2 separate regions of the Homo sapiens genome follow, and region 2 is linked to region 1. A link means that fine-mapping ties the variant in region 1 to the expression of a gene that starts in the linked region. Tissue or cell type: whole blood. Region 1 holds a variant in brackets; the other region holds the start of a gene. All regions are shown on one strand. Distances are between the middles of the regions.

Evidence for each region. PIP is the estimated chance that this variant, and not a neighbour inherited with it, causes the effect.
Region 2: it holds the start of UFL1, and the variant in region 1 is fine-mapped to the expression of UFL1 in whole blood (TOPMed, PIP above 0.99). The same link has a PIP of 0.9 or more in blood mononuclear cells.

The regions. Positions count from the first base shown.
Region 1 is chr6:96,550,293-96,552,792 of GRCh38, reverse strand. UFL1 (UFM1 specific ligase 1) reads right to left here. Exons shown (of 19, transcript NM_015323.5): 16 at 1,280-1,360; 17 at 870-955; 18 at 131-311. Among named protein-coding and RNA genes, the nearest start is that of FHL5, 12 kb to the left of the region's middle. The variant G/A (reference allele first, on the strand shown) is at 944.
Region 2 is chr6:96,520,308-96,522,978 of GRCh38, reverse strand. UFL1 (UFM1 specific ligase 1) reads right to left here and starts at 1,173. Exons shown (of 19, transcript NM_015323.5): 1 at 1,029-1,173. The coding sequence starts at 1,105. It overlaps UFL1-AS1 (UFL1 antisense RNA 1), which reads left to right and starts at 1,265. Exons shown (of 4, transcript XR_007059687.1): 1 at 1,265-2,671. RefSeq lists enhancers at 1-712, 1,379-1,568, 713-1,584, 1,585-2,456, 2,457-2,671.

The DNA.
Region 1 (2,500 bases):
ACATTATTGGAAATGGGCTTTGATGTTAATGTATTTTATACCTGAGTGCTGACAGTAATTCATCTCAATCCACTCAAAATATTCAGAATGTAAATCTTTGAAAGTTTCAAGTGTATTGAAAATGTAATACCTCTGGAATTTTACTATTAAGAAAAGCAATGATCTGTGGGACACATCTTCCAGGTGCATGGAGCATGCTGTGGGTTGAAAACTGAAACAACAGGACTGATGTGAGGTGCAGAATAAGAGCAGGGTCTTCTGTGACCTTTAGCTGTTCAGCCAGTGCTTGTCGATGTTGGAACAGTATCTGTCTAAAAAAAAAAAAAAGCACACAAATTCATTATCATAATTTAAGAAGTTCTCACCAATTTCAATTCATCCCTTTCTGTTAATTTTTAGCTTCTCTAGTTTATCTAATTCCATAAAAATTTAAGGTAACTTTTCAATATGGGATATACACACATAAAACCTAAATGGCATGGATAGATTAGTGTGCTACAAAATTAAAGAAAAAGCTATAGAGTGGGAATACTCAAAGTATGTTTTTTGTTTTGAGTTGCTGGAGGTCAAACAAATTTGCACTGATTAGGTAAGGTTTCCTGTAAGGAAAGTCCCCAAGCTAATAAAAAGTTCCTGGGCTTGATGAACTATAGGATAAAGAAACTCTGCTACTTGATCCAGAGGGTCAGAGAGAAATATCTAACTATTTTAAGACTTTGAATATTCTTGAAGGTCTACAGCCATTTAGATATATTAGACACATTAGGTACATATTCTCTGTGTAAGAGCCGGGCAGTCAAATTCAAATTTCAGATATGAAAGGCTCCACATTTAAGAACATTTCCAAATATAGATTAATTTAATGTTACCTTTCCCTTTTTTTGTCTCCCCTTTTCACCATAATATCACAAGCTTCTGCTGCAGAATCCAGACAAGAAATAAA[G/A]TCTTCTATGCTCTGAAAAGGCATTGAATACCATAATTTACTTTTATATATAACTGCATAAGGAAGTATAGCCATTTAACAATTGTTTTGTAATTTTACATCCCAAATACAATTTTTAAAAGGGTCACTTTCTCATTAAGTTAGAAATTGTGATATAGAACTAACAATGGTAAAATGCCAGCAGCTTGGTCTTCTCTTCTCATTTCAAAGAGGCAGCTGAGTGCAAAATACTAGTTTTAGATTGGATTTACAATTACTCTGATAAAAAAATCTACTCAAAGATCTTTGTAACAAACTGCTAGCCCTGACATGTAAATAGAATAAAACTTTACTTACCTTTTCATTCAGAGAGTTATGGAGTTTTGTAAGAGCTACTTTGGTTTCTTCTGATAATTTACTTAAAATTTTCTTTCTTATCTGTAGGGGTAAATGAAAATTCATTCAGTACTGTGCTTTTGACATGCAATGGATATAAGATAAAGTGAAAAAAATACTGTAACAAGTTCCTGAGTGGAATTTACCATATTCTTGAATTTTAGATCTCAAATTAGAGACAAAAACATTATTAGAGTCAATAGCCAATCAGCCAAACAGGATAGATACAGCCCTGCTCCTCCCACCTGCTCCATCAATGTAAGAGAAAGACTAGAGAGAGTCGTTGACCTTGTGAGAAACAGAATATTTGGGTTAAGAGGCTAATTCTTCCATTAGAGTAGGAAGAGGGTGTTTTTCTCTACCCAGTGCCAGCTGTGAAGGGCCCCACTCATAAAGATCAAGGATGCCTACAAGATGGGAGGCTGAGCTCTTGTTCATGGCTGGATGCTTGTTATGCTCTATGGTATGAGGAATCTTTTCAGCACCTCTCTCTACATGTAAGTGTCCACTGAAGTTTTATGGTATTCTTGATCAGAGTCTTTTAGTTTCTTCTGGCATAAAATTTTGGAGCAGACTTGCTAGTATGGCTTGACACCAGGCCCTGAAGTGTATAATGTCTGGGAAGATTAAGGGCTAGTTGCTCCTGTCTAGCCTCTCTGCCCCAATCCCACACCAATCCTTCTGTGGCCCTTAAAGGGCATGGAACAAGATATTCTGTATTTTCCATAGCAGAGATTGGTATAAGGGCAGGAGACATGAAACTGTCTAGACAACTGGGGATTTGCTTCTTAAGCAGAAGAAGGGAAGGGGGCCAGCACCTTGCTGGGGAAGGAGGAAGAAATAACTGTTCCTCTGTTTGAGGGATGGTCCTTACTGTGAGAAGTCACATGAAACTAAACAACATTCCAGGGAAACAACTTATATCGCCTATGAGGCAATGACTAACTACATCACCAAAGACCACAAACATCAGACTGATTTGGTTTGACCTTGATCAAAGCAGTGACATGTAGTCAGTCACATCAAGACGCTTTTTCCTGCCTCATTTTTCCTAAATCTCCAACTCGAAGTGGACCTAGAGAGGTGAGGAAGAAGGAAGAAGAACAGGAAAGAGGAGGAGGAAGAGGAGGTAGAGAAGGTGGGAGGAGGACAGAGAAGAAAGAGAAGGAGAAGGAGGGGTTG
Region 2 (2,671 bases), 30 kb after region 1:
CCTTTCAGAGTAAGTAGGTTTACATATGCTTAAATCATTTATTTAATTGGTACACATCATCCCATCACAAATTTCAAGTCTGTTGTCTCTTACAGGCCTGCTTCCAATCTTCAAATCTGAAGGGAAAATTGAAGACATTTATTTAGGTAGGAAAAAAGAAAAAACAAAACAAAACAAAACAAAAAATGCCCTAATTTCCAGTTTAATCAGAATTTTCTTTTAAATTAAGTGCATAATTGCCTCACTTACACACATGGTCTGCAAGCAGGCAGGGGATGTGGCCTAGTGAAACCATAACTTTTACCCACGTTAGTTACCCATGCAGTTACGAGTTTGCTATCAGTGGTAGAAAATACAGCATAAGGGGATTGCTGTCTTCCGGCTCAAAAGGAATAAAACATCGCAGGTAGGAAGTAGTCAAAGAATAGAAAGGCTTCTATTAGCGTTATTTTTAAAAAGCAGAGTTAGGCTCCTCTGGACACATCCTCCAAAGGTTAGTGGGCTTGTAGAAAATGTCAGTGCCCTGAATAACAGATGGGGTCAGGGGTCTAGCCCTAGGTCTGTTACGAGAGATAAAAGGGCAAGAAGTTTTAAGGATCAACATACTATTTGCCAAGTACTGTACTGGGGGCGGGGGTTAGCCTCTCCTTTCGAGCTCATTCTAGATCAGGAAGTGTATAATAGCCAAGATGTCACAGTGATTTGGTGGTTGGTGGGTGAGGGAGGGTCAAAGAAATGCTCAATAAAGGCAGCTCGAAATCACCGGCCCCGTCCATGGTGGGGCGGGGCGCGCCAGCATTTCGCTGCAGCTGGGCTGGGGGGCTCCAGGGCGTCCTAGGCTGAGGACTTTCCCGCCGAGCCTTGGACTTGGAACTGCGATCCAGGCTCGGGACAGAGGGAGGAGGAGAGAATGGTGACAAGCAGCGAGAAGACCCGGGATGCAGGGCCGCGGGTCTAAAGTCCCAGATACAGGCGTGTCCGCCCACGGCCTAATTTGGGCTCCACAAAGGAGAGGGAGGGTCGGGCACCTCTGCGTGGCCTCGGCGAACTGCGCCCGCTGGAAGTCGGCCGCCAACCGCCTAATCTCTTCCCAGGCGTCCGCCATCACGGCCTGACTCGCAGTAGACGCGGAGGAACTGCAGACACGTCAGCCGACAGGCGGTGGGAGAAGAGAGGCGGAACGGGCCGCGCAGAGGGACAAGAGGCTCCGCCCCCGACGCAGACACACCAAACGCTTGCGCCCGAGGCGCGGGGGGCGGGCGGAAGTGCCGTGGTTGTACCGCGGCGCTGGGGGTTCCTCCCGGCGAGACTGGCGGGGCTGCGGCGGCTAGGAGAGTGGTGCGTAGGTGTTTCTGGGGGGGTCGTGGGCAGGATGCAGGGCTCAGTAAAGTTTAGTGTCAGAACTTTGTTTGCGCTACCCCTAATATTTCCGTAGAGTAATAGTTGTATTAACTACTTTTCTTTTTTCTTCTGTCCTCCATTTGTTTTGGGGGAGGGTGCGGAGGAATAAGCCTGTGTCTAAGATTGGCGCCTCTCTTCTCTAGCTGTTAACTCTGAGCATTCCCTTTTGTATAGGGTATCGTGTTAATTTTTACATGCACCCAGAGCAGTCTGCCTTTTGGAAGATACATGGGAGACCCTACCGAAAGTAATTACTTTTTTTTTACAGAGTGAATAAATTTGCGTGTCATAAAGGCTGTATAATTGCTTTCGTGTCTAGAGTTCTAGAGTCTTTCGTATTTCTCTTATTGCAATGATTAACTTCATCAAATAATGAGGAATATAAACATAAGGTGCATGGCTATCAAGGAAACAGGGAAAGCAAAGAGAACATGTATCCTGCTTCCCTGTTGAGTAGATATTTACTCAGGTGTACCTTTCTTTTTTATATCTTTTTTATATCTTATGAATTGAAAATAAATCATGGGACCCCCAAATCACTAAGCTAAAGGGAAAAGTCATACTGGGAACTGCTTAGGGAATCCTGCCTCCCATTCTATTCAAAGTCACCCCTCTGCTCACTGAGATAAATGCATGTCTGATTGCCTCATTTGGAGAGGCTCATAAGAGAATGCAACTGTCTGTTATCTACCTATGACTTGGAACTTCCTCCCCACTTGGAGTTGCCCCGCTTTTCCAGATCAGACCAATGTTTATCTTACATATATTGATTGCTGCCCCATGTCTCCCTAAAATGTGTAAAACCAAGCTGTGCCCCAGCCACCTTGGGCGCATGTTGTCAGGATCTGTGCCATGTCATGGATGCAAGTTCTTAACTTTGGCTAAATAAACTTTCTGAGTTGATTGTGACCTGTCTCAGATATTTGGAGTTCATGTATCTCACTCTTTACTATTTAAAAAATATTATTCCAGTTAGAAAGAATGAATAATATCAAGTATTTGATAGCACAGCAGGGTGACTAGTTGTCAGAGGCGTTTGAACTAGAGCAACTCCATCTTGAATAGGGGCTGGGTAAAATAAGGCTGAAACCTACTGGGCTGCATTCCCAGGAGGTTAGTCACAGAGTGAGATAGAAGGTCCACAGGCAGGAAAAACAAGTCATAAAGACCTTGCCGATAAAACAGGTTGCAGTAGTGAAGCCAACCAAAACCCACCAGAAACCAAGATGATGAATACAGTGACCTCTGGTCGTCTTCACTGCTCATTATA